Linked DNA regions of Homo sapiens. The protein of the gene in region 1 purifies or fractionates together with the protein of each later gene. This does not show direct contact. Each region holds a gene or a part of one and is shown in the gene's direction. Other genes may lie near its edges.

The links.
Region 2: the proteins of PCDHB7 (region 1) and ITGA6 purify together in Homo sapiens (affinity purification with mass spectrometry; one large-scale study listed by BioGRID and IntAct). This does not show direct contact.
Region 3: the proteins of PCDHB7 (region 1) and PISD purify together in Homo sapiens (affinity purification with mass spectrometry; one large-scale study listed by BioGRID and IntAct). This does not show direct contact.
Region 4: the proteins of PCDHB7 (region 1) and PIGA purify together in Homo sapiens (affinity purification with mass spectrometry; 2 studies listed by BioGRID and IntAct, with this or other methods). This does not show direct contact.
Region 5: the proteins of PCDHB7 (region 1) and PDZD8 purify together in Homo sapiens (affinity purification with mass spectrometry; 2 studies listed by BioGRID and IntAct, with this or other methods). This does not show direct contact.
Region 6: the proteins of PCDHB7 (region 1) and LTAP1 purify together in Homo sapiens (affinity purification with mass spectrometry; 2 studies listed by BioGRID and IntAct, with this or other methods). This does not show direct contact.
Region 7: the proteins of PCDHB7 (region 1) and POMT1 purify together in Homo sapiens (affinity purification with mass spectrometry; 2 studies listed by BioGRID and IntAct, with this or other methods). This does not show direct contact.

The regions. Positions count from the first base shown.
Region 1 is NC_000005.10:141,171,459-141,175,443, forward strand, and holds the start of PCDHB7 (protocadherin beta-7 precursor), read left to right. Parts: upstream 1-1,185; 5' UTR 1,186-1,377; coding exon 1,378-3,759; 3' UTR 3,760-3,985. UniProt on the Homo sapiens protein: Potential calcium-dependent cell-adhesion protein. May be involved in the establishment and maintenance of specific neuronal connections in the brain.
Region 2 is NC_000002.12:172,503,773-172,506,959, forward strand, and holds the end of ITGA6 (integrin alpha-6 isoform b preproprotein), read left to right. Parts: exon of another isoform or gene 1-318; coding exon of another isoform or gene 319-480; 3' UTR 481-2,687; downstream 2,688-3,187. UniProt on the Homo sapiens protein: Integrin alpha-6/beta-1 (ITGA6:ITGB1) is a receptor for laminin on platelets. Integrin alpha-6/beta-1 (ITGA6:ITGB1) is present in oocytes and is involved in sperm-egg fusion.
Region 3 is NC_000022.11:31,648,716-31,652,215, reverse strand, and holds part of PISD (phosphatidylserine decarboxylase proenzyme, mitochondrial), read left to right. Parts: intron 1-1,437; coding exon 1,438-1,517; intron 1,518-3,500. UniProt on the Homo sapiens protein: Catalyzes the formation of phosphatidylethanolamine (PtdEtn) from phosphatidylserine (PtdSer). Plays a central role in phospholipid metabolism and in the interorganelle trafficking of phosphatidylserine.
Region 4 is NC_000023.11:15,325,524-15,329,023, reverse strand, and holds part of PIGA (phosphatidylinositol N-acetylglucosaminyltransferase subunit A), read left to right. Parts: exon of another isoform or gene 1-710; coding exon of another isoform or gene 711-803; intron 804-2,977; coding exon 2,978-3,110; intron 3,111-3,500. UniProt on the Homo sapiens protein: Catalytic subunit of the glycosylphosphatidylinositol-N-acetylglucosaminyltransferase (GPI-GnT) complex that catalyzes the transfer of N-acetylglucosamine from UDP-N-acetylglucosamine to phosphatidylinositol and participates in the first step of GPI biosynthesis.
Region 5 is NC_000010.11:117,365,441-117,368,940, reverse strand, and holds part of PDZD8 (PDZ domain-containing protein 8), read left to right. Parts: intron 1-3,500. UniProt on the Homo sapiens protein: Molecular tethering protein that connects endoplasmic reticulum and mitochondria membranes. PDZD8-dependent endoplasmic reticulum-mitochondria membrane tethering is essential for endoplasmic reticulum-mitochondria Ca(2+) transfer.
Region 6 is NC_000001.11:154,214,091-154,217,590, reverse strand, and holds part of LTAP1 (protein C1orf43), read left to right. Parts: intron 1-3,016; coding exon 3,017-3,134; intron 3,135-3,500. UniProt on the Homo sapiens protein: General regulator of phagocytosis. Required to uptake Gram negative bacterium by macrophages.
Region 7 is NC_000009.12:131,519,918-131,522,108, forward strand, and holds part of POMT1 (protein O-mannosyl-transferase 1), read left to right. Parts: intron 1-162; coding exon 163-276; intron 277-1,428; coding exon 1,429-1,555; intron 1,556-2,129; coding exon 2,130-2,191. UniProt on the Homo sapiens protein: Transfers mannosyl residues to the hydroxyl group of serine or threonine residues. Coexpression of both POMT1 and POMT2 is necessary for enzyme activity, expression of either POMT1 or POMT2 alone is insufficient.

The DNA.
Region 1 (3,985 bases):
AGTCACTGATCTACTGCAAGTGAAGTCACCAAACCCAACCAGTTTAAAAGACAAGCTGGAATTAAGCATGTAGAAACATATAATAATATAATTATTAAAACTATTGTATAAAATAGATAAAAAGCTCCCTAACACATTCTATGATGCCAGTATAATAGTTTAATACCAAGGCCATAAAAGGCAAACACGCACTAGGTAAACAACATTAACTAGAAAAATCCTAAAACCATGTTGACACATCATATCTATCTGTGCACTAAAACAATAATACATTATGGTTAAATGTCATTTATATCAATAACTCAGTAATTTAGAAACTAAAGAATAAATGTATTATTTCAACAGCTATCAAAAATCACTTCAAAATATGAAAGAATAAAAAGAAAACTTTATTGATTCAAAAAAGGAATATTTACCCCAAATTGAGATCAACCATCATAGTTGAAGATGAAATGCTAGAAGCACTTCCACAAATGCAAGATTGACCAACTTGCTACTACTAATTTTAAGAGTATTCATTGGACATTGGAGATTCTAGTCACTGAAATTATAGAGGAACAATAATTTCTTATGTAATACTTAAATCAGGTGAAGGATGAAGGTTGGGTTTGGGGGAGGCATAAAGTGTTCCAAGAAATATCACAGGTAAAGAGTTAAGACCTGGAAAGTGGAATAATTGTTTAATTCACAAGAAATTGGGAAAAGGGTCAATTATTCTGCCATATTCACATTATTATTGTTAAATACTTTACAAATAAATAAAATGTCCCCAACCAATATTTGTTGACTTCAAGGAGGAGGTTTCATTTTCTCATATATATTTTTACTATCCATTTTTAAAATAGGAGATTTTCTTAGGATTTCGGTGGGGAGTCAGAGTTTAGTTTCATGCTCCTAGATTTAAGAAGACTATAAATTAATTCTTCTACGAATCCAGATTATCACAGGGGAAAACGACATCAGCTATTACTTACTAGCATTACTGTGACCATTTGAGGATAAAGATGGAATGAAACAGCAAAGATACCGGGGACAAATCATTCTTGTTGCAGAATTCCTTCAATCCGCCATCTTTTTGTTCTAGTCTTGATAACGGGAATAACATCCACAAAACGCAAGGTGGCGCTGCTGGCTAAAAAGAGAGAGAGAAAAATAATTTCACAAAGAAAGGATGTTACAGATTCCAGAGCAAAGAGGCAATCTGAAGAGAAAAGCATAGGAAAGGAAACAGTGGTAATAGGAATTGGGGTAAAATGAGGATCCTTCCCCACAAACATTGCTATTATTCAGCTCATTTCAAAGGATTCCGCTGCTGCCATTTGTGAGAGCCGCTGGAGGCTGAGTGAAAGTCATTTTGAAAGACTGATCCAAAGAAGAATGGAGGCCAGAGTGGAGCGTGCTGTGCAGAAAAGGCAAGTCTTATTTCTTTGTGTATTTCTGGGAATGTCTTGGGCTGGCGCCGAACCGCTTCGGTATTTTGTGGCGGAGGAAACCGAGAGAGGCACCTTTCTTACCAACTTGGCAAAAGACCTAGGGTTAGGGGTAGGGGAACTGAGAGCCCGGGGAACTAGAATTGTTTCAGACCAGAACATGCAAATTTTACTGCTCAGTTCGCTTACTGGTGATCTACTTCTAAATGAGAAATTGGACCGAGAGGAACTGTGTGGCCCCAGAGAGCCCTGTGTGCTGCCTTTCCAGTTGTTATTGGAAAAACCTTTTCAGATTTTCCGTGCTGAACTATGGGTCAGAGACATCAATGATCACGCTCCAGTATTTCTAGACAGAGAGATTTCCTTGAAAATATTAGAAAGTACCACTCCAGGGGCGGCATTTCTCCTAGAGAGTGCACAGGATTCAGATGTTGGAACCAACAGCCTGAGTAACTACACCATCAGCCCCAATGCCTATTTCCATATTAATGTCCATGATAGCGGGGAGGGGAATATCTATCCCGAATTGGTGCTGAATCAAGTGCTGGATCGGGAAGAGATACCAGAGTTCAGTTTAACCCTCACCGCTTTAGACGGCGGCTCTCCTCCAAGATCAGGGACCGCCCTCGTGCGCATTCTGGTTCTAGACGTAAATGACAACGCCCCTGATTTTGTGCGGTCGCTCTACAAGGTGCAGGTGCCCGAAAATAGCCCCGTTGGTTCCATGGTTGTCTCCGTGTCAGCCAGAGATTTAGATACCGGAAGTAATGGGGAAATAGCCTATGCATTTTCTTACGCCACTGAAAGAATTCTCAAAACGTTTCAAATCAATCCAACATCTGGCAGTCTTCATCTTAAAGCGCAATTGGACTATGAGGCAATTCAAACTTACACATTAACTATTCAGGCCAAAGACGGCGGCGGGCTTTCTGGAAAATGCACTGTAGTGGTTGATGTAACAGATATAAACGATAATCGACCCGAGCTGCTCCTGTCTTCACTTACTAGCCCAATTGCAGAAAACTCACCCGAGACAGTCGTGGCTGTTTTTAGGATTAGAGACAGAGATTCCGGGAACAATGGAAAGACAGTGTGCTCCATCCAGGACGATGTCCCCTTCATCCTGAAGCCATCTGTCGAAAACTTCTATACTCTGGTAACAGAGAAACCTTTGGATCGAGAGAGGAACACTGAGTACAACATCACCATCACCGTCACCGACTTGGGGACACCCAGGCTGAAAACCGAGCACAACATAACCGTGCTGGTCTCCGACGTCAATGACAACGCTCCCGCCTTCACCCAAACCTCCTACACCCTGTTTGTCCGTGAGAACAACAGCCCCGCCCTGCCCATCGGCAGTGTCAGCGCCACAGACAGAGACTCGGGCACCAACGCCCAGGTCATCTACTCCCTGCTGCCGTCCCAGGACCCGCACCTGCCCCTCGCCTCCCTGGTCTCCATCAACGCGGACAACGGCCACCTGTTTGCCCTCAGGTCCCTGGACTACGAGGCCCTGCAGGCGTTCGAGTTCCGCGTGGGCGCCACAGACCGCGGCTCCCCCGCGCTGAGCAGCGAGGCGCTGGTGCGCGTGCTGGTGCTGGACGCCAACGACAACTCGCCCTTCGTGCTGTACCCGCTGCAGAACAGCTCCGCGCCCTGCACCGAGCCGTTGCCCCGGGCGGCCGAGCCGGGCTACCTGGTGACCAAGGTGGTGGCGGTGGACGGCGACTCGGGCCAGAACGCCTGGCTGTCGTACCAGCTGCTCAAGGCCACGGAGCCCGGGCTATTCGGCGTGTGGGCGCACAATGGCGAGGTGCGTACCGCCAGGCTGCTGAGCGAGCGCGACGCAGCCAAGCAGAGGCTGGTGGTGCTGGTCAAGGACAATGGCGAGCCTCCGCGCTCGGCCACCGCCACGCTGCACGTGCTCCTGGTGGACGGCTTCTCCCAGCCCTACCTGCGGCTCCCGGAGGCGGCCCCGGACCAGGCCAACTCGCTCACCGTCTACCTGGTGGTGGCGTTGGCCTCGGTGTCTTCGCTCTTCCTCCTCTCGGTGCTCCTGTTCGTGGCGGTGCGGCTGTGCAGGAGGAGCAGGGCGGCCCCGGTGGGTCGCTGCTCGGTGCCTGAGGGCCCCTTTCCACGACATCTGGTGGACTTGAGCGGCACCGGGACCCTATCCCAGAGCTACCAGTATGAGGTGTGCCTGACTGGAGGCTCCGGGACAAATGAGTTCAAGTTTCTGAAACCAATTATCCCCAACCTGCTACCCCAGAGCACAGGCAGGGAAGTGGAAGAAAATCGCCCATTTCAGAATAATTTGGGTTTCTGATAAAGAATGTAAACTAAATCCGCGTCTGTGAATACGTTTCTGATTAGGAACTTATTGCGAGGTTCCCTTAAGGGAGTGTCTTTACATCATTTCAAATATGTACTCTTGAAGTCAAGCAATAAATTTCTATACATAAAATAGGATCCTGATTTAGTATCAAGAACCCTTCACAAAGCATGAAATGTATATGTGTAATGTTTTATGTCAAACAATTATGCTTAATATA
Region 2 (3,187 bases), on another chromosome or scaffold:
GATTATTTTTAAATATGGAAGCACTGTTTTCATAAACTCTTAAATTGTTAGTAAAGAGGTAGCCTACATTTGTTATAAAATGTAAAGAGAAGATGAAAATGGACTTTTCTTCCAGTTTTACAGCTGTTCTCTTCCGTTGATCCCCACTGGCTCTTCTTTCATTTCAGCCTCTTGGTTCTTTCTTAAAAGAAAACCATGTCTTTTTCCCCTTAGTCCAGAGGTAGACATAGCTGAACAGAAAGCTTAGACATTCCCATTTAGTGTATTTGCTTCTTTGTGAGATTAATTTGTTTCTCTTTCTCTTTCCCTCTTCTCTAGTGTGGATTCTTTAAACGCTCTAGGTACGATGACAGTGTTCCCCGATACCATGCTGTAAGGATCCGGAAAGAAGAGCGAGAGATCAAAGATGAAAAGTATATTGATAACCTTGAAAAAAAACAGTGGATCACAAAGTGGAACGAAAATGAAAGCTACTCATAGCGGGGGCCTAAAAAAAAAAAGCTTCACAGTACCCAAACTGCTTTTTCCAACTCAGAAATTCAATTTGGATTTAAAAGCCTGCTCAATCCCTGAGGACTGATTTCAGAGTGACTACACACAGTACGAACCTACAGTTTTAACTGTGGATATTGTTACGTAGCCTAAGGCTCCTGTTTTGCACAGCCAAATTTAAAACTGTTGGAATGGATTTTTCTTTAACTGCCGTAATTTAACTTTCTGGGTTGCCTTTATTTTTGGCGTGGCTGACTTACATCATGTGTTGGGGAAGGGCCTGCCCAGTTGCACTCAGGTGACATCCTCCAGATAGTGTAGCTGAGGAGGCACCTACACTCACCTGCACTAACAGAGTGGCCGTCCTAACCTCGGGCCTGCTGCGCAGACGTCCATCACGTTAGCTGTCCCACATCACAAGACTATGCCATTGGGGTAGTTGTGTTTCAACGGAAAGTGCTGTCTTAAACTAAATGTGCAATAGAAGGTGATGTTGCCATCCTACCGTCTTTTCCTGTTTCCTAGCTGTGTGAATACCTGCTCACGTCAAATGCATACAAGTTTCATTCTCCCTTTCACTAAAACACACAGGTGCAACAGACTTGAATGCTAGTTATACTTATTTGTATATGGTATTTATTTTTTCTTTTCTTTACAAACCATTTTGTTATTGACTAACAGGCCAAAGAGTCTCCAGTTTACCCTTCAGGTTGGTTTAATCAATCAGAATTAGAGCATGGGAGGTCATCACTTTGACCTAAATTATTTACTGCAAAAAGAAAATCTTTATAAATGTACCAGAGAGAGTTGTTTTAATAACTTATCTATAAACTATAACCTCTCCTTCATGACAGCCTCCACCCCACAACCCAAAAGGTTTAAGAAATAGAATTATAACTGTAAAGATGTTTATTTCAGGCATTGGATATTTTTTACTTTAGAAGCCTGCATAATGTTTCTGGATTTCATACTGTAACATTCAGGAATTCTTGGAGAAAATGGGTTTATTCACTGAACTCTAGTGCGGTTTACTCACTGCTGCAAATACTGTATATTCAGGACTTGAAAGAAATGGTGAATGCCTATGGTGGATCCAAACTGATCCAGTATAAGACTACTGAATCTGCTACCAAAACAGTTAATCAGTGAGTCGATGTTCTATTTTTTGTTTTGTTTCCTCCCCTATCTGTATTCCCAAAAATTACTTTGGGGCTAATTTAACAAGAACTTTAAATTGTGTTTTAATTGTAAAAATGGCAGGGGGTGGAATTATTACTCTATACATTCAACAGAGACTGAATAGATATGAAAGCTGATTTTTTTTAATTACCATGCTTCACAATGTTAAGTTATATGGGGAGCAACAGCAAACAGGTGCTAATTTGTTTTGGATATAGTATAAGCAGTGTCTGTGTTTTGAAAGAATAGAACACAGTTTGTAGTGCCACTGTTGTTTTGGGGGGGCTTTTTTCTTTTCGGAAATCTTAAACCTTAAGATACTAAGGACGTTGTTTTGGTTGTACTTTGGAATTCTTAGTCACAAAATATATTTTGTTTACAAAAATTTCTGTAAAACAGGTTATAACAGTGTTTAAAGTCTCAGTTTCTTGCTTGGGGAACTTGTGTCCCTAATGTGTTTAGATTGCTAGATTGCTAAGGAGCTGATACTTTGACAGTGTTTTTAGACCTGTGTTACTAAAAAAAAGATGAATGTCCTGAAAAGGGTGTTGGGAGGGTGGTTCAACAAAGAAACAAAGATGTTATGGTGTTTAGATTTATGGTTGTTAAAAATGTCATCTCAAGTCAAGTCACTGGTCTGTTTGCATTTGATACATTTTTGTACTAACTAGCATTGTAAAATTATTTCATGATTAGAAATTACCTGTGGATATTTGTATAAAAGTGTGAAATAAATTTTTTATAAAAGTGTTCATTGTTTCGTAACACAGCATTGTATATGTGAAGCAAACTCTAAAATTATAAATGACAACCTGAATTATCTATTTCATCAAACCAAAGTTCAGTGTTTTTATTTTTGGTGTCTCATGTAATCTCAGATCAGCCAAAGATACTAGTGCCAAAGCAATGGGATTCGGGGTTTTTTTCTGTTTTCGCTCTATGTAGGTGATCCTCAAGTCTTTCATTTTCCTTCTTTATGATTAAAAGAAACCTACAGGTATTTAACAACCTACAAATTGGGAGTTGTCTTTGGACTGAATCCTCCTCTTCACTGCCTGTCCTTGTAAGGATAGGGAATTGCTTAGCAATGATAACCTGGCATTAAAAAAAATTCTGACAGCTAAGCTGCTTCCTTCTTAGAATATGTTTTGGATGTGGGAGCAGGCTAGCTGTGACGTGTGTGGCAGAATCAACTAGTCAGAAAATATTTTCTTCAGCAAAAGAAAGATTTTAGATTTGAGTTTTATGAAACTTCTCTAGCTGGATTATCACAACCTAATACAAGAAAATAAAATATATAAATATATAAATATATATAAATATAAATATATAAATATATATAAATATATATATACATATATACGTATATACACACACACACACACACACACACACACATATATATATATAAAATGCCTAGACAATATAGTGTGCCCTGGCCTGAATAAATGTCTGTCTAATATATTAGGTAATAGCTCTCCACTATACTTGGCATTACATAAAATCTTGGCCTTCT
Region 3 (3,500 bases), on another chromosome or scaffold:
AGGTTGCAGTGAGCCAAAATCCGCTCCAGCCTGGGTAACAGAGTGAGACTCTGTCACAGACACACACACACACACAAAAGACATAACTAAATATCCACGAAAGTAAATATTATAGTGTGAAAGTAATAAATGCAATTCTATTTTTCACAAAAATATCAATTTAAACATTTATAATAGAGTGAATTATTCTATCATAAAGGGTTCCAAGGAAAAAAATGTTTATTGACTCGGATACAGTTTTTTAACTTTAGATTTCAGGTCAGTATTTGGTGAAACTGAAGTGATATCTGAACTGAAAGTGAGATATTTCCTCTTTGATTAAGGGGAAACTCAACTAAAAACTCATTAATGCTTTGCTTGCTGGCATAGTCATTTATTGCCACTGGGAATATGTCTTATTTCTTCAGGCAAAGATGAAACAAAGAAGAGAAAGTAACTGAACCAGAATAGTATTTTCCTTTTTTTTTGAGACGGAGTTTTGCTCTTGTTGCCCAGGGTGGAGTGCAATGTCACGATCTCAGCTCATCTCAACCTCTGCCTCCCGGGTTCAAGTGATTCTCCTGCCTCAGCCTCCCAAGTAGCTGGGATTACAGGCATGTGCCACCACACCCAGCTAATTTTGTATTTTTAGTAGAGATGGGGTTTCTCCATGTTGGTCAGGCTGGTCTCGAACTCCCAACCTCAGGTGATCTGCCCGCCTCGGCCTCCCAAAAAAAACCCAAAAAGCCTTTTTATTGGGAAATAGTTTCAGGCTTACAGAAAGTTATAGAAATAGTACATAGAATTCCCAAATACCTTTTACCTAGATTCCTCAAATGTCAGCCCTATTTGCTTTATCATCTTCCATCTCTGTTTATATGTATATGTGTGTGTATACATATACATTCTTTTCCTGAGACACTTGAGAGCAATTTGCCAACTTGATGACCTTTTGCTTTTAAGCCCTTTTCTAGGCTGGGCCTGGTGGCTCATGCCTGTAATCCCAGCACTTTGGGAGGCTGAGGCTGGTGGATCACATGAGATCAGGAGTTTGAGACCAGCCTGGCCAACATGGTGAAAACTCATCTCTACTAAAAATACTAAAGTTAGCCAGGTGTGGTGGCGGGTGCCTGTAATCCCAGCTACTAGGGAGGCTGAGGCAGAAGAATCACTTGAGCCCGGGAGGCAGAGGTTGGAGTGAGCCAAGATTGCGGCACTGCACTCTAGCCTGGGTGACAGAGCAAGTCTCTGTCTCAAGAATGAATGAATGAATTAATAAATAAATAAATATTTCAGTCCTTCCCCTACAAGGACATTTTCTTATCTACAGTACAGTTGTCAAAACCAAGACATTTACATTGCTACAATATTGTTATTGAGTGTTTAAATTTTGCCGATTAATCCAGTAATTTTAATTTTAAGAATAATATTTAATGGTTCATTTTTGCTTGGTTATAGCCTCCATCCCTGTGAGATCACTGCCCTGAGCCAATCCCTACAGCCCTTACGGAAGCTGCCTTTTAGAGCCTTTCGCACAGGTAAGGAGCAATTAGAGATGGTGGTGACCCTCTCTCTGCCTCAGTTTGGTCATCTGTAAATTGGGATAAACATAGGGTTGTTGTTAGAGTTAAATGAGTTAGTATGTGGAAAGTACCTGGCATGCAGTTATCACTGAAGCGTTAGGTTTTCTTTTTCTTTTTTTTTTTTTTTGAGACAGTCTTGCTCTGTCGCCCAGGCTGGAATGCAATGATGCAATCTCGGCTTACTAAACCTCCACCTCCTGGGTTTAAGCAATTCTCATTCTCCAAGTAGCTGGGACACAGATGTGCACCACCACGCCTGGCTAATTTTTATTGTTAATTTTTGTTGTTTTTTTAATATTTCAAAGACTGTGTGCATACTGGCTAATTTGTGTATTTTTAGTAGAGATGAAGTTTTGCTATGATGCCCAGGCTGGTCTCAAACTCCTGGCCTCAAGTGATCTGCCGACCTTGGCCTCCCAAAGTGTTGGCATTACAGGCCTGAGCCACCGTGCCCGGCCTCATTATGTCTTTTTGATTATAGCCATTCCGATGGGTGTGAAGGGGTCTCATTGTGGTTTTGATTTGCATTTCCCTGATTACTAATAATGTTGTATTAGTTTGCTAGGGCTGCTGTAACAAAGCAACACAAACTGGGTTGCTTGAACAGCAGACATTTGCCTCATGATTCTAGGGCTAAATGTCTGAGATCAAGGTGTCAGGGTTGCTTCCTTTGGAGGGCTGTGAGGGAGAATCTGTTCCATGCCTCTTGCCTAGCTTCCAATGTTTTGCTGGCAATCTCTGGCATTCCTTACATATAGAAGCATCACTCCAATCTCTGCCTTCAGCTTCACCTGGTATTCTCCATGTGTGCATGTCTGTTTCTAGATTTTCCCTTTTTATAAGGACACCCATCATATTGGATTTGGACACACCTTGGCAACCTCATTTTATTTTATTTATTTATTTACTTATTTATTTTTTTGAGATGGAGTCTCGCTCTGTCGCCCAGGCTGAGTGCAGTGGTGGGATCTCGGCTCACTGCAAGCTCCGCATCCTGGGTTCATGTCATTCTCCTGCCTCAGCCTCCCGAGTAGCTGGGGCTACAGGCACCCACCACCATGCCTGGCTAATTTTTTGTATTTTTAGTAGAGACGGGGTTTCACCGTGTTAGCCAGGATGGTCCCGATCTCCTGACCTCGTGATCCGCCTGCCTCGGCCTCCCAAAGTCCTGGGATTACAGGCCTGAGCCACCATGCCCAGCCTGCAACCTCATTTTAACTTGATAATCTCTGTAAAGACCCTCTCTCCAGCCAACTAAGGGCACCTTCTAAGGTACTCAGGGTTAGAACTTCAACATAAGAGTTTTGGGGGAGTTTTCAGCAATTTAACGCATAACAGATATTTAGCCTCTGTCTTTTCTTGTGCTTATTGGCCAATGTATTTTTCCTTTGGACAAAGGTCTATTCAAATCCTTTGCACATTTTGATTGATTGATTGAGAGAGTCTCACTCTGTTGCCCAGGCTGGAGTGCAGTGGCGTGATCATAGCTCACTGTAACCTTGAACTCCTGGGTTCAAGCAATCCTCCCACCTCAGCCTACCTAGTAGCTGGGACTATAGGTGCAAGCCGCTGTGCCTGGCTATTTGTCTTTTTATTGTTGACCTGTAAGAGTTTATGAGATTTTGCATTTGAGAGAGAATACCAGTGCCTGATCAAAATTGGGCCTGCATTATAAAAGCAAGATCAAAGAGCCCTGGGTGAGAAATGGTGTTTGGCTTCAAGTTCTGGACCTGTTGGTGACCACCTGGGCAACCTTGATTAGTTTCTTGACCTCTTTGCGATTCAGTGTTTTCATCTATTAATACATTTTGTGACTGCGGTGGCAGTTGAGGTGCATTGTAATTCTATAGGAAAGATGCCTGTCCTGTACGTACTGACAGAATTTGGAGACAGGAGGGTCTGAGTAGTGGCCCAAGGTTGCACCTGCCTGCTAGATAT
Region 4 (3,500 bases), on another chromosome or scaffold:
CTTCATTTTCTGGTTTGAAGGCAATGACATGCTTTCATTCTTTAATCAGGAACATGTGAACCGACTGGCATTCTGTATTCTGAATTCCTCCTGGGACATTAGTGATGTGTTTTTTTGTAACTTAGGAATTGTACCTAATTTATTTTTTAACCAAATAGCATATCTTCTTGAGATGGCTAGCTGAGAAAGAGTATGACACAAGTGTGATCAAGGATCAGCAAAATTAACTACCCATGCAAAGATTAAACCTGTTACCTTTACTTCCCTAATGTGGTATTTTAACTAGCTGAGCTAACCACCAATGGAGTGATGGTATGGCCTTTCCTGTACTCAATTCAGTAATTGAACAGTTATTTATCGAACCCTCTCCAGATGCCAGGCACCCTGCAGAAAGTAACATTCTGAAAAGGAACAGCCATGCCTGTAGCCCAAAAGTGAGTAGTTGTATTAATGGTCCATTCCTTATTAACAAATTAATTTCCTCAGGAGTTTATTGGACCAGATATCAAAGTCCCACTGGAATGTCTTAAGTGAGAGAGAGGATAAATCAAAGTTTTCCTTATCCAGGCTTTTTGGATGTCTTTTTCCTGAGCCTCCTCTTCCAAGCCTGTTTTGCTCTCAGTCAGGATTTACCAGCACTCTGCATGTGTAGGCACGCTCACCTGCTTCCTTCTGTAGTGGTAATGACAACCTACATTTGTATTCTGCAGTTGATAAAGCCTGTTCGTGGTACAATACCTCATTTGACCCTCCCAACAACTGTAGGGTAGATGTTATCTACATGAAATTGAGTCTCAGAGAGGGTAAGTAACTCACCCAGGTTACACAGTAAGTAACAGAGATGACACACGAGTTCAGCTTTTCTGGAGCTAAGTTCTCCTCTTCCTCCACCCATGCCCAGCCACTCATATCCTAGGTGTAGATCAGAAGGTTCTTAAAAATATTGTTAGACTGAGCTTTAAAAGCAGTTTGGATCAGAGATTTTCATTGTCTGTTTTGTGTTCACATGGCAGTCGAAAGTCTCTAGGTTCCATTGCATTATACCCTTCTTAGAGGCTCCAGAATAAATTTTTTTATAGTGGTGGGGAAAAGCCCTTATTCTTAGAATAAGAATATAGATCATTGGTAATAGTAATCAGTTCCATTTCTTATGAGATACTTGTCAGGATTAAATGACATAATGAATTTAAAGTATATTGCCTGTCATAGCAAGCACTCTGTTACTGTTAGCTATTATCATTTATGACTATTGCTCTATGTTGTTTTTTGTTTGTTTGAAGAATGGGCTCTTAACCTTGTACGAGAAAGAAAAGGGTGAGGAAGAAAATGGATTGAAGGAATTGTAGGAGACTAAATGTTAAAAGTCATTAAACTACCTTCTGGTTTATCTAGAAATCCAATTGAGTGATTTGTTAGTAGACATGAAACAAAGATAGCTATGATTTTAATGAGAAGCCTTCATATTCAGAAAAGCTGCGTGGGAATTTTTGATACATACAATAACAGTTTGAAAGTACTAGCAGAGTTTACTTAATGAATTCTACTTTGTATTATTTAATAAAAATGACCCTATAATATATATGTCATTTCTCCTATTTTATATCTGATATAAAATATCATCTATTTTATAACTGATCTGCCTATTTGGGGTGGAAGATTAAGAAATACAATTCTTATGTGTGTGTGCATTTTTAAAATTAATAAACTTAGCTCTAGGTGGATTATTTTATATTTACTTTTACTTTTTTTTTGTTTTTTTTTTTTTGAGACGGAGTCTCGCTCTGTCTCCCAGGCTGGAGTGCAGTGGCGCAATCTCGGCTCACTGCAAACTCCGCCTCCCGGGTTCACGCCATTCTCCTGCCTCAGCCTCCGGAGTAGCTGGGACTACAGGCGCCCGCCACTACGCCCGGCTAATTTTTTGTATTTTTAGTAGAGACGGGGTTTCACCATGTTAGCCAGGATGGTCTCAATTTCCTGACCTTGTGATCCGCCTGCCTTGGCCTCCCGAAATGCTGGGATTACTGGGATTACAGGCGTGAGCCACCGCGCCCTGCCTACTCTTACTTTTGAATATGTACGTTTTGTAATTGTTAATGAACTAGATTCTTAAATAGTGTTGACATTGTTGGGACTTTGGATAGCCACTCACTTTTTCAGACTAATAGGGCATAATTTACTTTATTGTTTTCTATTACCTGAGATTGTGTTTATATATTATAAGAAAATCATTTTGGAGAAAAAAGGAGCCAAGATGCATCCTTTTGTTCTATGGACTGTAGTGATCTAACAGTTGATGCCCTGCTGCCTTCATTTACCCTCATTCCAGGAAAGTGGGCTATAGCTGGTTTGAACTTAAATTTTGCGATAATGTAGTGTTCACTGCAAAATTCTCTGTACCAGCCACATTTTAAACAAAGTGGAGGCAGCAGTTAGATTTCGTTGCTTAGCCTTTTCCTGTGGCAGTAAGTGGGATCACAGACTGATAGAATTTTATAGCTGAAAGAGACTTTAGGTACATAGGTATCTTTATTTTATAGATCTTGAAACTTCCCCACGATCAATGGGCTTGCTGGTTAAAAAAGCTGGGAAAAGACCCAGATCTCCAATCAGCTGCCTGCTCTGGAGAAAACGAACTCAAACCTTAGCCACCTTAAATATACCTTTTTTAGAAGTACGCAATGTATAAACACAAGTGAATAACTTAAAGAATAGTCTGTTGAGATGAAACAGAATAGTCCATATTTTGGGTGTGTGGAAGGTAATGCATGTCAAGGTCTACGTCTTCAAGAATTGTAACTCTTGGGGGACCACTGCCAGTTTGCAAACAATTCCACTCCTGGAAAAGGTTTAAGAGAGTTTCTCTCCTTTATGGAGTGCATAGCTAATACTTTTCAAAATAAGTGGATTCTCAGTCGTTCTGGTGAATTTTTTTAAGTTTAAATATTAATATCTCCAACATTCAACTTTATATTTTCAGGGATCGATTTGCTTAGTGGTATAATACCTGAACTCTGTCAGAAATATCCAGATTTAAATTTCATAATTGGAGGAGAGGGACCAAAGAGAATCATTTTGGAAGAAGTTCGGGAAAGATACCAGCTGCATGACAGGTATTGATGAATTTCATGTTGTCTTGAGGGAGAAGATGTCAATTATCTCTATTTGGTTTTAACTGCATGCGTACCTTAGGTGTGTTGCTTCTCCTGCATGTAATTGATATACATATAATTGATATAAATCTAATGCAAGGACTGTTTTCAAAATTTTTATATAAATAGGAAACCTAGTTAATTCACTATTTTTTCCATTAGCCCAATATTATTTGACTTTGGGGGGCCATTGTTGGAGGCACCATGAAAGGCACAAAAAACAGCTGCTTTAACTGGAAGCGTTTGCAGATTTCCAGGCCATACTGTGTAGTGATTTAAGTAATAGGGCTCAAATCATGTAAATTGCTCTGCACATACAGATTTGGACAAGTCTCTTCCTCAGTAACTTAC
Region 5 (3,500 bases), on another chromosome or scaffold:
GAGGTTGCAGTGAGCCAAGATTGCGCCACTGTATTCCAGTCTGGGCAACAGAGTGAGACTGTCTCAAAAAAAAAAAAAAAAAAAAAAAACATTGTCAATATAATGTTGAATTTTAAAAAGTCACTCTGCCAGAAAAAAAAAAATGCCTTGAAATGCAATCCATTTTTCTACCATGTAGTGATGGTAAGTAGATAGTGTCTCCTTTTTGTTCGAGTTTGGTGGATAGTTTGCTTTAGTGGAATGGGTCATTAATAACTATGTAAGCATTTACTTCACTGATCTCCAAAAAGGGGGGCATCAACTTATTGACAGTATATTTGAATTTAATGAATTGAGTGATCCGTATCTCAAAATCTTTCAAAGTAAATTCACAGAAAACTGACAAAATCATTTGTAAAGTCAAGTGTAATATGTTGTATTTATTTACTTTTTCATACTTTTTTCCTTTCTATTACATTGGAAAATATTTTAAAATAGCTACTAAAATTCCTTGATGGTTATAATAGTGACAGTTTTACTTACTAATGTTGATAGGAAATCTAACCTTTAATATTTGGGGAGAATAGACAATGGCATTGTGCATTACTCTAGCTATGCTGGAATAATCTTGTAATAGCTAATTTTTAACCTGTTGTGCTTTTTCTTGTACTGTTGCTCATATCTCTATATCTCGTCATATCTCTGTATAAGTTGAATTGCAAGATCATTGTCTTAGAGATGAATAATTATGTCATTTAAAAAATAGTCATTTATCTTCAGTAAGTGCTTAGTGCATACTACCTAGTGTTGCGGTGGGTATAGTAAACGTGATAAAAATGGTTATAAACTAGTTCATGCTATTATAGGGTTAGTCTTTCTAGGGAAAACAAAGAACACATAAAGCTTATTTTAGTGGCATTGGAAATATTTAAGCCCTTCAGTTTTGTGAGAAACTGGAACAGGAGAGATCAATATCTCTGCTCTGCTAAGGCAAACACCTGATTACTGTGGTACCGTATGTAATGCATTGTGACCTTAGCTTTTTTTTTTTTCCTCTCTCGTTGCCCAGGCTGGAGTGCAGGTGCATGATCTCGGCTCACTGCAACCTCCGCCTCCCAGGTTCAAGCAGTTCTCCTGCCTCAGCCTCCCACAGGCGTGTGCCACAATGCCCAGCTAATTTTTTTATTTTTAGTAGAGATGGGGTTTTGCCATGTTGGGCAGGCTGGTCTTGAACTTCTGACTTCAGGTGCTCTGTCTGCCTCGGCCTCCCAAAGTGCTGGGATTACAGGCATGAGCCACCACATTAGCTTTCTTAGCACACCTAAGTGTACTCCACCTAAATACCCAGTTTAGTGCTGATTTTACTTCTTGCACATTGGATTTCCTCCAGCTGCTTTGAATTATTTTAATTTCAGCTTTTAAAACACTTTAGATGGAGAATAATGTATTGATACATTACATCTTTGCTCTAGAAATTTGATTTATTCATTGAGGGGAGAATAGTCATTTTGAGGAGGCTATAATTTTTGTTTGTTTGTTTGTTTGTTTGTTTTGAGACGGAGTCTCACTCTTGCCCAGGCTGGAGTGCGGTGGCGCTATATTGGCTCACTGCAACCTCCACCTCCCGGGTTCAAGCAGTTCTCCTGCCTCAGCCTCCCAAGTAGCTAAGATTGTAGGCGTATGCCACCACACCCGGCTAATTTTCACATATTTAGTACAGACAGGGTTTCACCATGTTGGCCAGGCTGGTCTCCAACTCCTGGATTCTAGTGATCCCCCCGCCTCAGCCTCCCAAAATGCTGGGATTACAGGTGTGATTCACACCCTGCCGGGAGGCTATAAATTCAAATCAGTAATGTACAAGTATATTGGCTATCCCAAAAAGCCACAGTTTCTTCCTGGAAATAGCCAAAGCAGATCATTATAAAGTAGATTGTGTTGAAGGAGCATGCCTGATCAAATACTAAACGTTGACTTACAAGTATTACTAACAATCTATCATATGAGCAGGGTGGGGCTAATAAAACACTGTTTGCTAAGTATTCATTAGGCACTGTGTGGGCATTTCCATGCAGTTGCAATCTCAATAGTTAAAACTCCTATGTGGGAGAGGTTGGTATCTCAGTTTTACAGATGTGGAAATATGCGATTTACGGAGGATTAGTGATATAAAGTCCTAAATGTAAAAGGTCCTGGACTTCCAGAGCTCATGCTCTATTATTTCTTCAGAGATAAACCAACTGTTACTCTAAATCAGGGGTCTGCAAACTAGCTGCTGTTAGGCCCCTGCATTAAGAATGGTTTTTACATTCTTAAACTTTATATTTGACGTTGTTAAAAGAAGTACTGGTGGTGGTGGTGGTGGTGGTAATGGTGGTGACAGTGGTGGTGGTGGTAGTGGTGGTGGTAGTGACAGACCTTATGTACCCACAAATACTATCTGGCCTTTTACAGAAAAGATTCACTGATCCCTGCTCTAAACTTTAAAAAAAAACCCTAAAAATACACCCCCCTCAACAGTTACAATGTTTACCAAAAAAGAAGCTATATATGTGTACATTGAAAGTACTTTTAAGTCTTTGAGGGTCCTGTCCTTTGGAAACCTGCAGAAAATTTCTGCAGAAAACAAATTTTCTGCATAAAAATATTTCATTTAAGTTCATAGTTCCCTTGAAGCTTTTTTAGGGTCCTTAGACTTTAGGTTGAAAAATAAACACAAACAGAAGTATACAACTTTGTTACCGTAAACATAACTAAAACTAACATGCTGAAATCAATATTAACCACTTCATTATTTTGCTTACCTTCTTAAAATGTATATAGGATTCATATGGCTCAGGCGTTTCTAAAAATGCTGGAGGAGGGGGTAATCCCTCTCTCTATCCTATGAAGTGTATGTCTTTTTGATTCTTTTTTTTTTCCTCTTAAGATTTCATATAGCAGGCTGAGGGACTCTAGATCAATAGTTCAGTAAGAATATATGAAATTTCAAGTTAGAGTTCTTATTACTAAATACCTTGTTTAAAAGTTAAATACTGACTCAACATTTCTTCCCATGATATTCTCTGTTTTCTCAGAACAGTGTCACCAGGAAACAAGTATTATTAAATGACTTTGTTCTTACCTCAGAGTCATAGGACGTACTGACACTTTTTTGGCATGGCATCAGAGCACATCACACTTAATTGGAAAGTTTTAAAGCCAACTACCTGGTCATTAGCAGGTGTTTTACAGAGTAGTTTCAAAATCTCTCTTGCCAAATTGCTAAGACTGGCATAAAACTGTACACTTCCTGTATTTGTACTAGGGAAAAATGTGATATGCACGTTAATTATTTACCTTTAGATGAGCAGTACTAATTTTACTAGATATATATCAGATATTTTCTAGGTGACACATTATATTCTTTTCCCTTTCAAATGAGCGACAAACTCACTTTAAAAATTCAAGCTGTTAGAAAATATGTAGTATCAAAGTGAAAATCTTCTGTAATATCTTTTCTTAAAACTATTGTTAAATTC
Region 6 (3,500 bases), on another chromosome or scaffold:
ACTGCACTCCAGCCTGGGTGACAGAGCGAGACTCTGTCTCACCAAAAACAAAAAAACCATGCTGAGTGAAGAAAGCCAAAATGCCGTTCACAAGAGAATATGTACCATGTGCTTCCACCCCATTTATATGAAATTCTAGAACAGGCAGAACTGTAAAAGAGTACATCATGTTGCCTGGGCTGGGAGAGGGGAGATTTCCAGGTGATGAAAATATTCTTTACTTTGATTGACGTGGTGGTGAAGGGGGTATGTTCATTTGTCAAACTCATCAATTTATATACATAAAATGAATGCATTTATTGTATGTAAATTCAACCTCAATAAAGTATATTTGAAAAATTTTGCTGGGTGCGGTGGCTAACGCCTGTAATCCCAGCACTTTGGGAGGCTGAGGCAGGTGGATCACCTGAGGTCAGGAGTTCAAGACCAGCCTGGCCAACACGGTGAAACCCCGACTGTACTAAAAATGCAAAAAAATTAGCTGGGCGTGGCGGTGTGTGCCTGTAATCCCAGCTACTCAGGAGGCTGAGGCAGGAGAATCACTTGAGCCCCGGCGGAGGTTGCAGTGAGCAGAGATCACACCATTGCACTCCAGCCTGGGTGACAGAGTGAGTCTCTGTATCAAAAAAAAAAAAAATTTAAGGCCAGGCGAGGTGGTTTACACCTGTAATCCTAGCACTTTGGGAGGCCGAGGCAGGCTGATCACGTCAGCTCAGGAGTTCGAGACCAGCGTAGGCAATATGGGGAAACCCTGTCTCTATAAAAAGTTTAAAAATGGGCCAGGCGCGGTGGTTCACGCCTGTAATCCCAGCACTTTGGGAGGCCCACATGAGAAGATCACAAGGTCAGGAGTTTGAGACCAGCCTGGCGAGCATGGTGAGACCCCATCTCTACGAAAAATACAAAAAATTAGCTGGGCATGGTGGCATGCGCCTGTAGTCCCAGCTACTTGGGAGGCTGAGGCAGGAGGGCAAGGAGAATTGCTTGAACCCAGCAGGCAGAGGTTGCAATGAGCCAAGATCATGCCACTGTACTCCAGTCTGGGTGACAGAGCAAGACTCCATCTCAAAAAAAAAAAATGTTTAATAATTAGCCATGCATGGTGGTGTGTGCCTGTAACCCCAGCTACTCAGGAGGCTAAGGCAGGAGGATCATCTGAGCTCAGGAGGTGGAGGTTATAGTGAGCTGAGATTGTGCCATTGCACTCCAGCCTGGGTGACAGAGTGTGACCCTGTCTCAAAAAAAAAAAATTTTTTTTTTAAACAAGTTGCAGAGGGATTCTTAAAGTATTTTTCCATTTGTATCAAGTTGAAAACCAGGCAAAGCTAAGCATCTTTTTTAGGGTGACACGATAAAACAGTGAAGAAGTGTATGAGGACTATTGACAAGTTAAGGTTTGGGGTGCGGAGCATTCAATGAGGGATGGGCACACAAGACTTGAAAGTTAGTGGTAGGGCCGGGCGCGGTGGCTCACGCCTGTAATCCCAGCACTTTGGGAGGCCGAGGCGGGTGGATCATGAGGTCAGCAGATCGAGACCAACCTGGCTAACAAGGTGAAACCCCGTCTCTACTAAAAATACAAAAAATTAGCCAGGCGTGGTGGCGGGCGCCTGTAGTCCCAGCTACTCGGGAGGCTGAGGCAGGAGAATGGCGTGAACCCGGGAGGCGGAGCTTGCAGTGAGCTGAGATTGCGCCACTGCACTCCAGCCTGGGCGACAGAGCGAGACTCCGTCTCAAAAAAAAAAAAAAAGAAAGTTAGTGGTAATGTTCCATTGCATAAACTGGATATTGGTTATAGGTGTTCATTATTATGCTTTTTATAATTATTTAAAATGTACATCTATGTTACCTGTATTTTGTGTATCTTATGTTTCACAATGGGAGTTTGTAAAAAGTTACAACAAAAAATTTATTTCCTGGGGCTCTGGTAACCCTCTTAGGTAAGAGAGATTAATATGAAACTGAAAATAGTAGTTGCTGCTGGGTAACTGAGAGGTGCTACCTTTAGTATCTTTTTTTTTTTTTTTGGAGACGTCTCACTCTGTCACGCAGGCTGGAGTGCAGTGGCGCAATCTCGGCTCACTGCAAGCTCTGCCTCCCGGGTTCACGCCATTCTCCTGCCTCGGCCTCCCGAGTAGCTGGGACTACAGGACCCCGCCACAACGCCCGGCTAATTTTTTGTATTTTTAGTAGAGACAGGGTTTCACCGTGTTAGCCAGGATGGTCTCGATCTCCTGACCTTGTGATCCACCCACCTCGGCCTCCCAAAGTGTTGGGATTACAGGCGTGAGCCACAGCACCCGGCCCCTTTACTATCTTTAAAATTTGTATACCATGAATTTGACTTGGCTATTTTAAAAGAAATATGTGTTAATTTTTTTTTAAAGTAGCCTCTAGCTAGGTGCATACCTGTAATCCTAGCTGCTCAGAAGGCTGAGGCAAGAGAGGCTGGGCGCAGTAGCTCACACCTGTAATCCCAGCACTTTGGGAGGCCAAGGCAGGCGGATCACTTGAGGTCAGGAGTTTGAGACCAGCCTGGCCAACATGGTGAAACCCCATCTCTACTAAGAATAGAAAAATTAGCCAGACATGGTCGTACGCGCCTATAATCCCAGCTACTCTGGAGGCTGAGGCAGGAGAATTGCTTGAACCTGGGAGGCGGAGGTTGCAGTGAACTGAGATTGCGCCACTGCACTCCAGCCTGGGTGATAGAGCAAGACTCTGTCTCAAAAAAAAAAAAAAAAAATTGGAAATAATGTTGGTGCTGTATAGCTTGAAGGATTTCTGGCACAAGTTAAATGTTCTAGCTTAGAGATGTGCAGCTTGGAGAGGTTATTGGAAAACCCAATCCCGTTCTTTCCTAAATTCTTACCTCTTATCTGGTAATTTTATTAACTACATGAGCATGGTCTCTATTTCTGTTGTCTTAGTTATTCATTAACTCTGCCCCATTTTCACATTGGTGGAAAGCAGAGTGCAGGGTAAATGATTGTGTATTCTTTTTTTATGTGAACAGGACTTGAAAGAGGAGATTGATATTCGACTCTCCAGGGTTCAGGATATCAAGTATGAGCCCCAGCTCCTTGCAGATGATGATGCTAGACTACTACAACTGGAAACCCAGGGAAATCAAAGTATGTGGCAAGCTCTTGGAATGCTTCAGTGAGGAGTCCCACAAGTCCAGAATTCCTTTTCTCTCAGAGTTGTCAAAAGCTGCTGGCAAAGCCTTAGTTATTCCTGTTATTGGATATATGTTAGATGCAGAGCCCATTTATTAGCTTGCTGGAGTTTGGGGAATTTTTTTTTTCTTTTTTGAGATGGAGTTTCACTCTTGTTGCCCAGGCTGGAGTGCAATGGTGCAGTCTCAGCTCACTGCAACCTCCACCCCCTTGTTCAAGCAATTCTTCTACCTCAGCCTCCTGAGTAGCTGGGATTACAGGCATGCGCCACCACGCCTGGCTAATTTTGTGTTTTTACTAGAGACGGGGTTTCTCCATGTT
Region 7 (2,191 bases), on another chromosome or scaffold:
GGAATCCAGGTTCTCATCATGCTGCCTCCGATGCATGATCCGAATGAACTTGAGCTGGGCCAGTCCACGTGCAAGGGGCAGCAGTGTACTCCTTTGACCAAATCCACGCACAGCGGGAGGCATCCCCCATCCTCAATCTCAGAGGCCTCTGCTTTGTTCCAGTGGAGGATGCTGGCGCTGAGAAGTGATGACTCGGAACACAAGTACAGCTCCAGCCCACTGGAGTGGGTCACCCTGGACACCAATATTGCCTACTGGCTGCACCCCAGGACCAGCGTAAGCGAGCGATGCTGACAGCTGACAGTCATAGATTCATCCTGTTTCTTGAGAATTCCTTGCATTAAGAGCAGCCGCTGCACCCTAGAAAGTGCTGGGTTTCTCCCAAGCTTTTCCTGACAAAGGCCTGTGACTTGGTTTTCTCTAAACGCTTTGGCAACCTGGAGCCAGGAGTAGGGGTGTGGCATGTGTGCCTGTTGAAGGAAACCCGGCTTGATTGCTTTTGTGGAGACACATTGTTCCCCTTTTCCTGGCGAAAGTGGTTTTAAGATATTCCCATTCAATTTTCCGTGTGGCACCTGGTGGTGGAGCTTACCGGTGCTTTGCTGATGTGCGTGCCGTCTCTCCACCCGGCAGAGTGAAAGCATTGGTAGGCCGGGCGCACAGTCAGCGCCCCATAAATATTCACTGAATGGGCAGACGCTGGAAATGCCCACCTTTTTCCTCCTCCCTCAGAGGCGGGTAGGTCGGCTCAGCATGTGCACTGAAGGCAGAGGCTCAGGCCCAGAGGCCGCCCCACCCCGAGCTCTGAGCGCACTTTGCATTCTCCTCCGTGGACAGCGCTGCTGTTACAAAGTGGAGTCATCTGCTCCCAATTTTCAGTTTCCAATTACAAAATTGAGAGCATCAGTGCTGTGTGTGTGTGTGTATGTGAGAGAGAAAGAGAGAGACGGAGTCTTGCTCTGTCATCCAGGCTGGAGTACAGTGGCGTGATCTTGGCTCACTGCAACCTCCACCTCCCAGGTTCAAGCAGTTCTCCTGCCTCAGCCTCCAAGTAGCTGGTATTACAGGTGCCCACCGCAATGCCCAGCTAATTTTTGTACTTTTTAATAGAGACGGGGTTTCGCCACGTTGGGCAGGCTGGTCTCAAACTCCTGACTTCAGGTGATCTGCCCACCTCAGCTTCCCAAAGTGCTGGGATTACAGGCATGTGCCACCACACCCGGCTGGCATCAGTGCTTTTAATGAAAGGTCTGAGTAGGAGCAGACCTGTCCACAGTAGTAGTAAGGCCTAGTGGATGCTAGGCTGTGCCTGGCGTTTTTTCACTCTGCTAAAGTAGTGCGTGCATCTGAATTCCTTTCCTGTGTTCTCTTCTCTTCCCTCCCTGAGCAGAGGGCAGGTGGCTAACAGCATCTCCCATGTTCCCTTAGGCTCAGATCCACCTACTTGGAAACATAGTGATCTGGGTTTCGGGCAGCCTCGCTCTGGCCATCTACGCCCTGCTGTCCTTGTGGTACCTGCTCCGACGGCGAAGAAATGTCCATGACCTCCCTCAGGGTTAGTACCTCTCCCACATGGCTTTCTTTCTTTTTAATATAGACATGGGGTCTTGCTGTGTTGTCCAGGGTGTTCTTGAACTCCTGGGCTTAAGCGATCCTCCTGCCTCGGCCTCCCATAGTGCTAGGATTACAGGTGTGCGCTGAGCATTCACCGCCTCAAGTGACAAACCGACTTCATAGGAACCTACCCCTTAACGCGGCCTCTTTGTTTCTGTATTGTGGAATCTTAAATTATGTTTGTCTCCCAAGAGACAAAATGTTAAGTTCCCATGTTGCGTTAGAGGTGTCTCCAGTCGAGTGCAGCGTATTGGGCAGGAATTGCCCTCTTGGTCCCATGTTGCCCGTATGCGCTGGAAATGGCTGGGTAACACAGGCAGCCAGGCCGGGCGCGGTGGCTTACACCTGTAATCCCAGCACTTTGGGAGGCCAAAGTGAGGGAGTCACCTGAGGCCAGGAGTTCAAAACCAGCCTGGGCAACATAGTAAGAACCCTCTCTCTAAAAAAGCAAAAGAGAGAGAAGACCCGGCCTGTGGGAGCAGCAGAGTCGGTGTAGCTCGAGCCCTTTCCTATAGATGCCTGGCTGCGCTGGGTGCTGGCTGGGGCGCTGTGTGCCGGTGGCTGGGCAGTGAACTAC